Linked DNA regions of Homo sapiens: region 2 is linked to region 1. Evidence: fine-mapped expression QTL. A gene starts in region 1. The other region holds a variant in brackets. All regions are shown on one strand. Distances are between the middles of the regions.

Region 1 (8,326 bases):
CTGAATCACCCTTTTCTCCAAGGAAACCTGCTCCTTGGAAACCACAGTCTGGTCATTGTGTGTTCATTAGTACCACAGTGTCATTGCTTCTAGGCCCTGTCAGTACACAAAGCTCAAGAACTATATATATATGTATGTATGTGTATACATGCACACACATATACATGTTTATTCTATGTCTATATTAAAAGCCGTAAGTACATACTGATGTTTTCAATACCAGCTCAGTAACACAGGGTTCATTCTAGCCTTTTTCCTTTCCATGTCTATAACTCCTTTTCTGATAGCCAGAAATTTGGCTGTCCTTATCCACAGTATATTTGCTTGTCCAATCCTAGAGTATATCTAATTTCAGAATTGGTATATCCCTGTGGACAACAAGAGTACAATGTATGCGCATAGTCCTCTTTCACACTCACTTTTAAATGAAAGTTGTCTTTTTATCCCTATTGAAGGAAAAATGAGTAACTATCAATTAAACACATAATTACTAAAATATGTTCATGTTCTTCACGTTGGAAACCGCTAGAAGGGAATAGCATGGTTTGTCCCTAAATTTTCACTCTGCTTACCAGTTACTGTGTTGTGTGGTCTTGAGCAAGTTAATTTAATCTTTCTGAACTTAAACCTTCTCATTTTCGAAAATATTGAACACTGACCTTTGATGACTAATCGGGGAAAAAACCCTATGCTACCAGAGTGTACTAAGTTACTGTTATAGAAATGGTAGGCTACAAGATCGTTTTTAAGAGAATAACTGAATTATACCTTGGCATTATTTACCTAAATTATGTTGTTCATTCACTTACAAACTTAAACCCAGGTACCCTCAGTGTTTACACATGTTAGAGCTGCTCCAATATGAACACTTCCGAAAGGAGCTGGTGAATGCTCAGTGTGCGAAATTTATTGATGAACAGCAGATTCTACATTGGCAGCACTATTCCCGGAAGCGGATGCGCCTTCAGCAAGCCTTGGCAGAGCAGCAACAGCAAAATAACACATCGGGAAAATGAAAAACTGGATACAAACGAGGCACTTAATACATGTATATAATGTATTTCTTTTGTACAGTGAAGACAAAAAAAATGAAAACTCTTCCTATCTACCTTTATTATGGTAGCCCCTAGAACCTTTAGTGTGCTTTTTCATCCAACTTTTTATTGTTAATAGACTATTTCTGTTAAACCTGAATTGTTCTTTGATTTCCCTGTGGATTTGTAAGGTGTTTTTCTTTTTTACGCATTTAGCATAATCAGCTGATTAAGAATGGAAAAGTTAGGTGCTTTAGACCAAATAAGGCACTGGGGCATGGGGTAGGGGTGGGCCACCAAGTATACTGAATTCTAAGGCTAGCTGTTCCTGACATATAGTAGGGCAAGACCATCTCCTGGAACCTTACTGTCTCAGATCAACTACTCTACCACTCTACTCTAAGATGTAGTGAGAGTAGCGGAGTCACTGACCTCTTTAAATCATAGGACAGGAACTGCATAAAGGTTCTTGAATTCTGCAGGACAGGAAATAACTGTATTACCTGCTTTGCAAGGTGGCTTTAAGAATCACTGAATCACTGTGGCCTCACTTGACCTAGTCATGGCAGGACAACTAGTGGTTAGTTACTAACTGGACTCTTGACTTTAGAACAAACATGAGGAGCCTCAAATACTTGTGTTCATTTGGGAAAGCTACCATTGATTTGGGAGGTACCACAAACCAGGTGCTATGTTAAGTGCTTCCTTGAATTCTCATTTTATTCTAAGAACCTTGTTTATAGAAGAGAAAACTGAGGTTTGGACGGGGTGAGTAACTTGCCTGTGGTTACACAGCTAGTAAGTGGTAGAGTCAGTGTGACTGACTCCCAGCTTGGAGTTCTTCCCAGAACTGGGTTATAGAGTCTTTCCGGCCGCTCTCCGCCACCTGCCTCATCCCAAGTAAAGCACATTGAGACAGCTGCAAAACAAACTGCTTCTAGTGCTCAGGAGTCTGTTTTTTATTAAACAAAACAAAACTGCCTGAATTAAGCAGAGGCTAGATTAGAGGTCATGTGCTTTCCTTCAGTGGTGAGGTTAGGTTCTACATTCCAAAATCAAAGAAGGGGTTTCAGGAATATCATCAGTTGCTTTGCAGATGGAGATAACTTAAAATAAAAGATACTGATCTTTTGAGAGATTTGGAAGGTGTGCTCTGCACCTTTAGGAGTTTTTAGGTATTTCCGTCACCTTCAAGAATACGTTCCTTTGAGCCTTTACTGCTATTTCTGAAGACTTCTTTATATCTTAAAAATATCCATGTATTACAGGCAAACTAAAGGTTCATGGGCATTTTAATAGCACTCTATTGTTTAGACACATGCCAGTTTTTTTAACATCATTTATTGCTAACATGAATTCAAAGCAAGTATACAGTTTATTGATACTAGAACAAATCAGGACATCAAGACATGATTGCCATCCTAAAATCTTAATCTTCAGAGAACAACATTTCCACCAGGTTGGCCTGAAGACACTCAGATTCTACCAGTTTTTGAGGCTGTAAGAGAAAAACAGTCAAATCTTCACTACTTCTATAAAACGTTATTAGGAGTGGAATGAGTTCTGCCTTGAATGACACTCATCTTTGAACACAGAAATTACGCAATTCAGAAACTATCATCTAGTTATAACAAGTTTTATGAAAGAATCAATATATTTGCTGTAAGATGAATCACTAACATACTTGGCTCAAGAGACTTAAACCCCAAATACCAGGAAGCTCCACAGACTAAAACAGGAGACAGCAAGCCCAGTGCCCTCTTCTTCCCCTCAACTCTTTAATTTAGGATCCCAGGGGCATGACTGAACTAGAAGAGATGCCCTTACTTTTTAACCAGAATTATGAATTAAACAGAAAACAACTGTTGATGCAAATGTTTTAAGGAATTATGAGTCAACCTACTTTCTGGTTTTTTAAGAGTGACTTAACATGAAAAAGACCTAATAGCTAGATATTTACATTATCAGTTTATTGGGATTGGCCATAGGAATGGACTTTCAGCAGCACTCTGAACAACAATGGAATTGAGATGAAATGTCAAGATCTTTTCAAATCTGGATCCACAGCAAGTTAAAAGAGTTCTGACAGTGAATTACAGGCCCAGCATATTTAAAGATACTTACTGTTCCATACTTAAGTAGTGTAGGCACTGCTGTTACTTTCAAGTTTTTTCTGAAGTCATTATTTGGATCTTTCCAACTATTCGAAAAGAAAAAGTGATCATGAAAAAAATTTACTTGGTTTATTACAGTTTGCTTAATATTTGACATAGTCCTACATTTAATTTTTTAGTAATCACTGTTCTTGCAAACACTTAAAAAACCTTGCGGACTATGGCTTAATCTACTAATTACCCTGTGCAAAGTTTCAAAGTGTGACTAAGATATAAAAGTAAAGCCAGCTAAGTTCTGGGCTTACACCAGACCAAATTCGTTGAATTACCCTTACTTAATTCAGGTGGGCATTTTAAATTTGTATTTAATAGCTTCTAATTGTTTAACTTGTCAGACATTACCTTGTAAGACAAACTGGGTAAGTAAGTCCCTGAGGCCCTTCCCGCCTAAGTATGCAATTTGTGCACGTCTGCGAGGTAGATTATACATTGCCACTTACTAAGGCTTTTCTCCTACTTGGCAGTAGATGAACACACATCCTTCACTAATGTGCTTCAGCCCCTCTCGTACGACTGGTTCAGCTTTAAAAAAAGTTGAGATAAAATAATCGCACGTCAACTCTACAATCAGGCACGTATAAACTGTGTTCTTTCCCCCTTCCCCCAGTCTTGGTAAGCACTCAGACTTTAACCTGCAGCTAACTGAAGAGGTCAACACAAGTCAGGTGTTCCCTTCTGGTCTTAGAGCCACGTTAAGGGTAAGGACCAAATCCCAGTCCCGATTTGCCCCTGCACCACCGCGCCCGTAACAATGGAAAGCACATGTATTTGCTGACCAACTCACGTATCCTGTAAGACACTAATGGTACTGGGGGAGTGAGAAGTTTTAAGGAACTAGATTCCAAGATCATCCGGGTAAGGTGGTAAAAGGAAGAGCGCTCTTGGCAGGGCGGGGTAGGATTTAATAGAAGGAGACTTGGGGACAGCTCAGATTGCTCCGCGGATGTCTGGAACCAAGACTCTGCCTCCGCTAAGCCCCCCTTCTGGCCGTAGGCTCGACCTTCCTGCCATTTCCATTGGACAGCAGCCCCCGAATCCCGGCCTCACCCTGCACGCAGTCGGGGCACCAGCTTTTCCCCCCGGCGTCCTTAGAACCCGTAAAGTAGGCGAAAATGGTCTTGCCATTGTGCTGTTCCACGGCCCGGTGGAACTCCTCGAAGCCGGACACGCTCACCTCCTCATAGCGGGCCATTGGCACGACGTGCAGCCGCTACTGGAGGAGTGCACGTCCGGTCGCCGCGGTTGGGTCCCGCGTAGGCGGGGCGAGGCTGTTTCCGGGTGGGCAAGAGAGGGCGGAGCCTGCGGAAGCCAGCGCCGCTAAAGACTACGGGAGCCTCTGACGACCACAATCCATCCGCATGGCTTTTTGCTCTAGTTCCTCAGATCTTTCTGCGCTAGCTGCACTCCCAAGCCCAGGCTTAGATCTACCCTAATCTAGTCCCAGCCCCGACCTCATGGACACTGGCTGCAAAACTTACCGCCTTGCAACACCTGGATCCTTAAATAGTTCAGGGCCTCAAAGGCTCCCAAGCCGCCCTGCGCCTGTTGCTATGGCGACTGGGCAGGCGGCCGGAAGCGCGGCCTTGTTGGGGGCCCCCGTTGCCCGCCTCCCAGTAGCCGCGCCTCACCCTAGGCCAGGTGGGCTCGGGCCGGGGCTGGGGGGGATTCTGGGAAGCCGCATAGAGTCATGGACTTGGGGGAGAGGAGATCTGACTCGGAAAGCCTTTGTTGCTTTGTCCCCCCAGTTACCTTTTCTGCCGTCTAGGCTTTACGGGGGCCTGGGACTGGGGGCGGGTTCCCGAGACTGGGCGGGGGTGGGATGGGTGAGGGGCTCGGAGGGAGAAAGGCTGCAAGGCCGGAGCGGAGTGTGTGAGTGCGTGTGTGGAGCAGCTTAGGGAGCGAGGTGCTAAGACATCCCCCAGGGCCGCGGTAGGGAGGAAGGGAACTGCCCTGGAGCTATGAGCCGGGAGACTCGCCGTGGGGCCTTGCCCAGGCTGCGCCGGGGAGAGCAGGCGGCTAAGATGCCGGGTCGCTGCGTGGGGCCCAGCAGGTCGGGGCGGGGGGTTCGGCGGCCGTGGGGGAAGAGACGGGGCGCAGGGACGTCCCGAGGCCGTGGAGCAAGGCGCCGGGCGAAGCCCTCGGAGTGGGAGACGCGCTGTGTGAGTGCAGAAAGGCCACAGGGCCGTCAGCGGCCATGGGGGACGAGACAAGCGGCGGAGACAGCCGACGCCGCCGGGGCGAATGAGGCTTTGGGAGCTCCTGGGACCCCAGGCTCCATCGAGGCTGCAAGGGACCCTGGGGCTGTGTGGGTGAACGGGGCTGTGGGGGAGCCCGAGGTGGTGGGGCTTGCCGGGGCTGTGTGGGTGACCGGGTCTGGGGAGGAGGAGACCGAAGATAGAAGTCCCCGGGGCTGCGAGAGAAAAGGTCGCCCGGGATCTCTGGGCCATGAGAGCATTCTGCACCTGTGGCTGAAGGTGCAGGCTATGAGGGCCGCCTCGGGATGTGGGGAAGGAAGTAGAGTCGAGCTCCATCCCGTGCCTGCAGGAGAGGGACCTGTCGAAAGGGGTGTTCCTGGCCGAGCTTCCTGGGTAGAGACAAGCCGCGGCGGTCTTACAGGGCCCTGGGTGAAGGAACAGGCAAGGGGGATCCCTCGGGCCCCCTCAGGGCCCACAGCTCTGGGCTTAGGGGCAGCTTACGAGAGAGCCTTAGGCTTCTGTGGACAGGGACAGGCTGGGAGGGTGCCTCCTGCGAGTGTGCCTGGGGCTTTGGCGTCAAGTTCTGAAATGGCCCCGCACCTGTGGAGGGGAGAAGCTGTGGGGGTTCCTGAGACTGGGGAGGAGATAGGCTATGGGTTTGTCTCAGGCCCTTGTGAAAAAGAACAGACTATGGGCGAGCCTGGGACCGTGGGGTGGACTGGGGCTGTGGGAGCGCCCAGAGCCATGGAGGGAGAGCTCGGCTGTGGCGGTGCTGCAGGTCTGTGGGGGAGAGGACAGTCCCCGCAGATTCCTGGGGCTCTGACACATGAAGCAGTCTGTGGGGCCACCCCTGGCGTATGGGGGAGGGGACAGGCTGTGGGGGTGTCCGATGCTGTGGAGGAGGAGCCTACTTCTGTGGGTGCCGCAGGTGTGTGTTACAGGAGACAGGCTGTGGAGGAGACAGACTCTGTGGGTATGCCCGGCCCGTGGGGCACAGGATACTCTGTTGGGGTGCCCTGTGCTGCTGAAGAGGAAACTAGATGTGGAGGTGACCCAGGGTTCAGGGAAAGGGGACAGCCTGTGTGGGTGGAGACAGGCTCTGGGGGTGATCCAGGGTCACGGGGAGCTGCGCAGACTGCAGAGTCATCATGTCCTGGGGAGCAGGCAGCAGGTTCTGGGGGTGCCCCAGGCCTGTGGGGGATACAACAGGCTACAGGGGTACCCAGGGCCTTGGGGAAGGACACGGGCTGTGTGAGTGTCCCAGGGCTGTGGGGAGCGGGACAGATGGTAAGGGTGCCCCAGGCTGTGGTGGTACCTGGAGCCCTGGGAGAAGAGCTGAGCCACAGCGGGGGCCTGGGCCTGTGGGACGGACAGCAAGCTCTTGGGGGGCCCCCAGCCGAGGCAGTGCCTGGGCTTGGAGAGGAGACCTGTAGTGGGAATGTTCTGAGCCCGTGGGAAAGGAGGCAGGCTGTGGGGGAGCCAGAGAGTCTGGGGCCTCCAGCTTTAGGGGTCCCTGGGTCAGTGGATCAGGAGGCTGGCTGTGGAGATGTTGCATGTCAGTGTGGGAGGAGGCAGGCTGTGGGGGTGTCTGAGACGGTGGGCATACCCAGGGCAGCAGATGTGCCCCGGCAGGGGTGTGCCGCAGCAGGGGTCCTCATGGCAATGGGTGTGCCCGGCTCTGGAAAGGTGCCTGCCAGAGTGCCTGCTGCTGTGTGGGCGTCTGGTCCTGTGTGTCAGGAAGGCAGCTCTAGAGACATTTTGAACCTGTGGGAAAGGACTCGGGCTGCCAGAATATCTGTGGCTTCGGGGGGACCCGTGGCTCGGGAGGAGCTGTGGTCTGGCGGGGAGGAATCCGTGGCTTCAGGGGGACCCGTGGCTCAGGAGGAGCTGTGGTCAGGCGGGGAGGAATCCGTGGCTTCAGGGGGACACGTGGCTCGGGAGAAGCTGTGGTCTGGCGGGGAGGATTGTGGTTCTGGGGCCTTCCCGGGCCCATGGGGGAGGAGACAGACTATTGGGGTTCCTGTGGTGCCTGAGGGGCCTGGGCTTGGGGGGGAGACTGACTCTGGGGGTATCCCAAGACCCTGGGGACAGAGACAGAGGGTCAGGGCTCCTGTGGCCACCGAAGTCCTTCTGGCTCCTAGGGTGCCTGGTTCTGTGGAGCTGGAGCCTGGTGATGGAGGCTTTTCAGGCTTGTCAGGGAGGCAGCAAACTGCAGGAATGCCTGGCACTGTGGGGCTGTCTGCAGCTAGTGGGGTGCCCGTGGCTCCCAGGGTGCCTAGGCCTGTGCAAGAGGAAACTGGCTCAGAATTGTGGGGTGAAAGAGAGACAGTGGGCGGACCTGCAGATGCCAAGGGTCCCACAAGGATGGAGGTGCCCACCTCGACCAGGATGCCTGGGCCCATGGCGGAGAAGACTGGCTCTGGGGGTGTCTCAGGTTTGTTGGGAGGCAGACAGACTACAGGAGTGTCCATGGCTGTGGGGCTGCTGGGGTCTGTGGGGGAGGGGACCATCTTTGAGCATGTCTCTGGCCTGTCTGGAAGAAGGCAGACTGCTGGGAGGCCTGTGGCTGCTAGAGGTTCCATGGCCGTGGGAGTGCCCACAGCTCCCGGGCTTCCAGGGCCAATGGTAGGGGATACGGGCTCTGGGGATGACGGCTCAGGCATATGGGGAAGGAGACTGGCCACTGAGGGGCCCACAGCTGCCAGGGTTCCTGGACCTGTGGAGGGGGAGACAGGCTCTGAAGGTGTCTCAGGCCTGTGGAGAAGGAGACACGGTGGAGCCATTCCCGAGGCCGGGAGGGTGCCTCTGCCTCTGGGGGTGCTTGCAGCTGTAGGAGCTCCCATGGCAGGGCGTGCGCCTGCTGCGGTGTGGGTGACTGGGTCCTCAGGAGCAGAAGCGGACGTGGGTGTCTCAGGTCTGACCG
Region 2 (8,326 bases), 63 kb after region 1:
GGAATAGGAGAGGGGGAGTGAAACTTATCTGCATTTACCATTTTTGTGTAACTCTGACTTTTGAAACCATGTTAATGTTTCTTATACATCCCCTTAGTCAACAGGGATGGGGCGGGGGCCTTAAGTCGAATACAAACAGAAACATGAACTTAACTGTATTTCAAATAAATAATATAATCATATTAACGGCATGAAGCCTAAATAACTTTTGAACACAGTATGTTGACTCTTTACCTCTGGCTAAAGACAAAAAGAACTGTAAACACATAACTGGATTCTAGTTTGTAGGTTTCTTTTATACAGTGACATGGGTTAACAGTTGAAAACTATTTTCTCTATATTTTAGGATTGGTCAAATAAGTAAGTACATTGTGAATAATGGGAGCAAGGTTTCTAGGGGAAGGCTGGGATGAATATATGGTTTTTTATAGACGTAGAAATAGATACAGGGTGTTTCTTAGTTTGTCTGCTGAGAAGGCCCAGAAGCAGAGGTGCCAGTAGCAGTGAGCACACCCAGTACCCACATCTTGGTTTCTAAATACCGTTCTCCATGAAGAGGCACCAGATGAAGAGGCACGAGGGCTTCTTGGAAGAATGGCTGACTATAAGCCTGGGGCTGGAAAAATGTAAGATAAGCCTCAGACATACTGTGCTAGAAAGGAAGTGCTCAAAGAAAGATGGGGACATGTCGAGAGTTCACAGGAGTTCCCAAGAGGCACCTACGGGCCAAATCCAGGACATTTTCAAGCATCGAAATATGTAATAATAGTAATGGATTACAAACTATACAATAAAATAAAAATCTATAAGGCCAAACTGATAGGAATGAATACATAAGTAAAAGACAAGGGAAAGCTTTCATTACAGTAGAATGCCAGCTATTAAATGGAGAAGAAGTGATGGAAGTAGAAAATCCGTGTTTGGCAACCCTGTAATAATTGATTTAGGCGAATTTCATGAGAAACAGGAGTTTACATAGTCTCAAAGTATCTCCCTCCACTATACCTATTAATTACAAAGGGGAAAACAGTAACTTTACAAGGGAGAAACCTGGCAGACATCACCGTAACCCAGTGATGCAAAATTAACTGACATCATTAATGGATATCAAATAGATATCATGGTGCACTGAAGGGACACACTATCCTTCTGTGGCATCTCTTTCAAAACCGTATGTCCTGAATCTGATCATAAGGAAAAAACCCAAATTGAGGGATATTCTCCCCACCCCCCCAAAAAAAGGCTTTTATTCTTTAAAAAATGTTAAGGTCATGAGAGGCAAAGAAAGACTGAAGGACTATTAGATTACAGTAGACTAAAGAGCTGTGACAACAAAATGCGACATGGAATCCCAGACTGGAACCTTGGACTAGCAAAAAATTTCTTTTGAAGGAAATTATTTGGATGGTTGGCAAAATTTGAATAAGGCCTGTAGATAGATAGGCCTGTAGAATAGATACTAGTTTTGTATCAATGTTAATTTTATAATTGTTATAATTGTACCATAGTTATTTAAGAGAATGTCCTTGTTTGTAGGGCTACTTGGGAGATACGAAGCTTGCGCCGTTCAGAAAATGAAGGTGTGTGTGTGTGTGTGTGTGTGTGTGTGTGTACAGAGGAGCACCCGTGCAGAGTCCCCTAGTGTCCTCCCCCGTCTCCTACAGAGAAGGCACACCCCTTCCTCCGTCGGCCGGTCAGGCAGCTGTTAGAGGTGGGGCTAGGTTGCAGCTGGTTAGTTTCTGGTCGCCTCTGGTTTCAAACACATTGAGGATGAAGTCCATCCTGTGTATGTTTTAGGCCTGTCCCTCTAGCAGGACTTTGGGATCTAAGCACCACCATCCTTCTGTCTAGGAGAGCAGGGCCTCTCACCTTGTTTTTCTTCTTCAAAAGTATCTTGGCCGGGCACAGTGGCTCATGCCTGTAATCCCAGCACTTTGGGAGGCCAAGGCAGGCGGATCACGAGGTCAGGAGATTGAGACCATCCTGGCTAACATGGTGAAACCCCATCTCTACTAAAAAAATACAAAAAATTAGCCAGGCGTGGTGGCGGGCTCCTGTAGTCCCAGCTACTCAGGAGGCTGAGGCAGGAGAATGGTGTGAACCCGGGAGGCGGAGCTTGCAGTGAGCCGAGATGGTGCCACTGCACTCCAGCCTGGGCAACAGAGCGAGACTCCGTCTCAAAAAAAAAAAAAAAAGTATCTTGGCTGTTCTTGGCCTTCTGAATTTCCATTTAGATTTCAGAATTGACTTGTTAATTTCCACAGCTGAGTAAAAGAATGGCTCCCATATATGGCTGTACATACCTTTATTTTATTTTATTTATTTTGAGACGGAATCTCACTCTGTTGCCCAGGCTGGAGTGCAGTGGTGTGATCTCTGCTCACTGCAATCTCCACCTCCCAGGTTCAAGCGATTCTCCTGCCTCAGCCTCCTGAGTAACAGGGTTTATAGGTGTGCATGCCACCACGCCCGGCTAATTTTATGTATTTTTAGTAGAGACCGGGTTTCACCATGTTGGCCAGGCTGGTCTCAAACTCCTGACCTCAGGTGATCTGTCCATCTTGGCCTCCCAAAGTGCTGGGATGACAGGTGTGAGCCACCGCGCCTGGCCTTGTACATACCTTTAGTTGTGTTGTTTGTCTTCCAGCTTTTCAGAAGAGCTGGTAGATGAAGCTCTGGGTGCTGTGGCTGCTGAACTTCAGGATATGTGCGAAGATTATGCAGAAGCTGTGTTCACCTCAGAATTCTTAGAGGCTGCTACATAAAGGCTCTCTGAGGCGAGGCCATTTGTGTCACACTGGAGAAGGGATGGCACCACCCTTTGTTTTGGCCCACAGGAAATTTTCATCCTCAGCTGTCCATCCAGGCCCAGAAGGTGCTGCCCACTGAAAGGAAGGCAGTGCCGGGGAGGTCATCCTCACTTTGCATTTTCTTTTGTCATGGCAATGGTTCTGGAAATGTATGATGCAATGTATCACACTTATCAGTGCCCAGGCAACACAACTTGATTATGGCAATATTTTCAGAATGTGTACTTTTCCTATTGAAATACCATGTTCATTCCTCTGGCTCAGTTTGGTGATGAAAATGTTTTGAAAGATAATCGATACGTATATTTCACACAAGGATTCAGGTTGCTGTTGAACCCTTGCTGGCATTGATACCAACACAAGTGCGGCTACTAGCTGGTCCCATCACGGGGCCCCTGTTTTGCATCTTTGGCGATTTCCTGTCAGGACCTCTGGCCCTACTAGGCTGTAGACTCAGGGAGAGCACAGTCTGGCTGTGCTGCCAAACCTCTCCTCTGCTGCAGTTTATTCCAAACAGGAGCCCCCTGGCTGTCAGTGCACAATAATAGACACACATTTCTTCAACGTTCCATTCCTAGGTGATTTTCACATTTTTAGTTCCTCAGCATATTTTATTGCTGTGTGTTGACACAATCTGGTATAAAAAACTTTCTCTGGATTCAGAGGAAGTTTGAGGAATCAGGAGAGGACCAGGCCTTCTCCTGTGCCTGGGTGAAGGTACAGACCTCGCTGTGTCTCCGATGAGGTCAGAAGTGTCTCTATTTCATACCACAAAGGAACCCAAGTGGGAGTAGGGAACAGATGGATGGCGCGAAGACCTCTGTGTCTCCCCAGAGAAAGGAAGAAACTTAAGAACCATCATAGCCTGGTCCTCCAACATCTTACAGATCATGTTTTCCAAGAGAAAAGCCTGTGTTTTCAGAAACTCTGAATTCAGAAAAAGAAACGGAATGTGCGTAAGAATCAGGCCACTGCCTGGAAAGACTTTCTCTCAATTCGTAGCCTGAGGCTCAGTGAAGGAAACATGCAGAAAGAATGCCTGAGACGCCCCCAGGGAATAAGGGAACTCTTTATAACCTGTCCAGTGCCGTCATCTGGGATTTTTCTCTGAAGTACAAGAATTTCAGGTGATTTAAGCTGCTTGATCACACTTATTTGTGCAAAATTGATTTTCATTTAATGTTAATGTTTTCCTGCTTAATTTTATATAACTTCAGAATGTAAAGAGCTTCAAGGTAAATTACAGGGTGTTTAACCTGGGGAGTTAAATGTGTACACTTGAATTAATAGGAGCACCGGTTGTTGCTAGTATAAAGTAATTTGTGTGGCAGTTTGTACTGTGCTGAGTTTTTAAAATAAACCCAATATTTTAAAGTATGTGCCTATTTTAAATAACTTACATCTCCTTTTTTTCCCACAGGCAAAGTGAAATGTGATTTACAGAAACCACTGAGAATACTTTTATATGTGATATGACTATAGTGGATTATTTGCCACCCCTTCCCCCCGAGAAAAAAATTAGTGACA[A/G]TAAAAGCTAACATTTATTGAGCACCTACTAGAGCATTGCTCTCCGTGCTTGCCATGTAGTAACTTATTTAATCCTCACCTCATCTCTGTGAGGTGGAGAGCATCATTGTTCCCATTGTATAGATGAATAAAACGAGGCACAGGAGGAGATAATTTGACCAAACAAACTTGGAGTTTACCTGAGCTCATCTTCCTGCCTTTCCCTATCCCCACTCGGCGTGTGCTGGGGCAGTCCCATTCTCACACTTCCTGTTGCAGCTTGTGTCCTGAAAGGCCGAGCCCAGGCTTTGCCTTGTTTCAGGATCTTCCCACTCTCTCCTGCTCCTCCCACCAGGTGGATCTGCCTTTCTCTGACTCATGTGGGTGGAGCTTCAACCAGCCCCAGTGTCCAGGTGTCAACTTTATATCCCTGGCCCATCGCAAACATCCACAGCCAGAGCATTCTCCAAAGACACAAAAATATACTGCAAGAAATAAACATTTTTCTTTGCAAATGGAAGCTAAATCCTTAGAATATAAAAGTTCCCGTTTATCGCCTCGCAGCCAGCCCAGACATCTAGAATTTTTTGTTCTTCATGAACAAGGGCTGACCGTACATCATTCTGTAATTCCCTTCAGCTTTCTCACGAACTATTCGTGTACTATTTCAGAAGCAGAAACACACGAGTTCAGTGTTTTTGTGTTGCATACGCCGTCCCCAGTGTACAGAGACATGAAAATGCACTCCGAGCGCTCCACCGGCACAGCTTGGTCACACGGGATTTCTGTCTGTTTCTGTGCTTACCTCTAGTCTGTTTAGCTCCTTGAGGGCAGGGACCCTGCCTAGCTTGTAGTTGGTGCTCAGTAAATTCTTCTGAATTAATGAAAGGTGAAGGGCAGGCTGATTGACTTTATACGGGGGGGTCTGTCACATCTCATATAGTCCACAGAAATCTATGATGTCCTTTTGTGACCCCGAGATAGAATGCCATTTGAGAACTATAATTCCATCTTGGAGGTACTGCTGCCATTGCAATTCCAGCTCAGATGGCAAGAACTTGCTTCCTTCCTCCTAGAGCAGGGCATGGGCCTCAGCCTCATGCTGCTCCTGACCTTGAGCGAGCCTTGGTCAGGGTGCTCCTGGGGACTAAGCTGGGGCGGCCCAGGGACTGGAGAAGAAGACAGAAGGATGTGCATGGGAGCCCCTTGCCTCTTGTGTTCTGTTACTATTTCAGCACTGTGGTCCCTTCTCCCTCTGCCCGCCGGAGCTGGGGTTTGGAGGAGAGATGGTGAGGAGAGAAGCGCTTTCCTCACTCCACTTCCTCCCTGGGCTCACGGTTCCTGCTTTCCTGAAGGTGGTCCGAGTGTGTTTGTGTGTGTGTGTGTTGGGGGAGTGGGGGAGGTGGAGGCATGAACTGCACTGTGGCCAGTGGGTCTGAAAGGCAGAAGGAAGGGCCTGAGGGAAGCCCCAGGGCCAACAGCAAGAGGAAGGGTCCAAGTCAGAAAGTCCCCTGTGCTCTCTGTGACAGTGTAGGTTTCCATCACGCTTCTGTGTTTCTGAGAGGAGCTCTCTTTATTTTAGCAACGTGAGACAGTAGTGAGAATTCCCTGCAGAGCCTGTAAATTCAGGGGTGTCCACATCATCATGGGCTTATGATCACCACAGAAGTGACCTTTGGGAGGGGCCAGCCTGTGAAAGGGCTCCTGGTTCTCTGGGCTCTTGAAGAGCAGCAGAAGGGCAGTGGCCTTGCCCCACTGAGCTCCATTAGTTCAGGAGCCGAGATCTCAGATCTGTTTCCACACTGGCATGTTGACTGAGTCCAATAACGTGGGCCTGGATTGGAGGGGCTTCCACCTGACATCCTGTGTACTTCCTATCAGTCCTCAGTAAGGGCCCCAGGAAATCCCAGATAGGGACCCTGGGCTGGTTGTCAGGCCCAAGTGAACTCAGGCAACAGACCCAGCAGGATCATTCCCCGACCTGGAGTGCACAGCTGGCTTCCGGAGTCAGGGCTCCCCTCCCGGTTCAGCTCCAGTGCTGGGTTCCCCTCTTGCCAGCCTGTCCAGGACCTTGCTCCACCTTCCCCAGTCTTCTCCCCAAGCCTGCACCTGCCTTCCCAGATGACCCCTTTATCCTTTATTTGCTGCTTTCCCTAGAGTCCCCTTGGCTGTTCTTGACCTCATATACCTGGAAATCCTTTCCTTGAACCAGACCTGCAGGCTTTTACTATTTTCCCTGGCTCGCTTTCCATCCATCCAACTGGACTTCTGCCTGTGGCCTGGAGTTAGGTCCATCCGTTCCCACCACTAAGGCTGCCTTCCAGCCCCCCACCTTGTCACAGCTGGCTACTCCCCTTGAGGAGTCCAAGCCACTCGCATGTGCTGTCCTCTCTCTCCCTGGTGGTGTCATTCCCCATGACACTCTGGGTCTCATAGTTTTATCTCTCCCTCCACTCATTCCAACACCTCAAAATCCTTTCTGGAGAACCTTCAAAGGTCTTACCCAGTCGTTTCTGGGGCACTTTTACCCCAAAGAGCACCCTTAAATACTATCTCAGCTGAGACCCCGTCCACCTCCATGTCCTCTAAAACCCCTTCTGGTCACTGCTGTCCCTTTGCTTTCACTGCAGCCCTCCACCCCGTCCCCTTTTACCCTCCCGACTGGGGATCTCTCCTCTTGTGTTGCTCTGCGGCCTCCTCCACCCCCACACTTCCTCTCTGCCTGCCCCGCTGAACTTAGTCATGCGTTTCCCTTCTGGTCGGCTTGGCTCCCCAGAATCTCCCACCCACACATCGTTCCTCTGTCTTCACTGTGGGTCTTGGTGAGGTCAGCCTAAGGCCTCTCACTCCTGGCCTGCAGAGCCCTGCAGAAGGTCACCGTGCCTGTGTCCCGGAAGCCCACAGCACATTCCTGCCACCTGCCACAGGGAGGCCCTCAGTGCTCCGAGATAGCTCTATCCATGCCTGGCAAGTCTTGTGGACTGGGGAGAATTCTAGGGAGACTTCCGGCTCTGAAATGCCGCGATCACGAGGGGCAGGAGCATTCAGATCCCAGACATGTCGGCTCTGCCATCTGCCCTGCAGCCCCAGTGGTCCCTAAGCCTGAGCTGAATTTGACCGAGGAAGCCCTCAGCGGACACTGATTTCTCGAGTGCATACAGGAAGCAGGGAGTCCAGGGAGCCGTGGAGATCAAACTGGCCACCAAACTTGTGCAGCCACCGTCCTGTGTGGCCCTAAAGACCTCCCGGGGGAGAGTGGCATCTCCAGGGCCAGGCTCAATAAGAGATTTGGCTTTTCTTAACCATAATTAGCCAACACATTGCTTCTGGAGAGTTACTAGAGGTCAAAAAAGTTCCCTGAATGCTTTGAACAACAGCTCACGTATTAGCTGGCACTTTACAATTTATAAAATGCATTTACATATATTCTTTCCTTACATCACTATAACCACTCCTGTTTTGTATACCAACAGTAGTTCAGCTCATTAAGAATTCGAGCCACAAGTTAAATTCCTGTGTGATTTTCATGCCTTGGTTTCCTAATAGGTGAAATGGGGATGAAAAAATAGCACCCACCCAAGGTTTTTGTGAGGATTAAGGGAAATGCCCATGAAACCACTTAGAATAACGCTGAGCAGACAGTAAGTGCTCAATAAATGTTACCTATTAGACTCCCCACTGAGAACCTCGTAAGAGGGAACCTTTCAGCTTGTCGCGCAGGCTTGGTTCCGAAGTGTGTCCCTGGCCTCCTTCCACCCATTGCACTCTCTCTCCTGCTCACAATCCTGTGTCTTTCCTTGCCTCACCTGTCACACTAGACACTCGGCAACACTTTTCCTGGCCTGGCCTTTGGCTGCTCTGAGTCACATACACATCTGGCTTCCCCCTCCAGCTGGTCCGCCTGGGCTGCCTCAGTGGACGCCCTTGCTCTAGGGCTTCCGGTGCCACCAGAAGTTTCTAAACTGGACCGCGTCCTTATGGGGTAGTTGAAGTATTAGCCCCATTTTACA

Evidence for each region. PIP is the estimated chance that this variant, and not a neighbour inherited with it, causes the effect.
Region 2: its variant is fine-mapped to the expression of KIAA0753 in whole blood (TOPMed, PIP 0.98).

Annotation. Positions count from the first base shown.
Region 1 is chr17:6,637,157-6,645,482 of GRCh38, reverse strand. KIAA0753 reads left to right here and starts at 4,772. Exons shown (of 19, transcript NM_014804.3): 1 at 4,772-4,846. It overlaps TXNDC17 (thioredoxin domain containing 17), which reads right to left and starts at 4,423. Exons shown (of 4, transcript NM_032731.4): 1 at 4,256-4,423; 2 at 3,649-3,730; 3 at 3,159-3,234; 4 at 942-2,532. The coding sequence starts at 4,400. The coding sequence ends at 2,464. MED31 (mediator complex subunit 31) reads left to right here. Exons shown (of 4, transcript NM_016060.3): 4 at 824-2,172. The coding sequence ends at 1,016. It overlaps LOC122526780, which reads left to right and starts at 5,167. Exons shown (of 1, transcript NM_001396008.1): 1 at 5,167-8,326. The coding sequence starts at 5,167. RefSeq lists enhancers at 3,704-3,763, 3,964-4,233, 4,364-5,245, 6,144-6,213, 7,158-7,939 and 1 more.
Region 2 is chr17:6,574,186-6,582,511 of GRCh38, reverse strand. It overlaps KIAA0753, which reads left to right. Exons shown (of 19, transcript NM_014804.3): 19 at 2,648-4,365. The coding sequence ends at 2,765. Among named protein-coding and RNA genes, the nearest start is that of PITPNM3, 22 kb to the right of the region's middle. The variant A/G (reference allele first, on the strand shown) is at 4,338.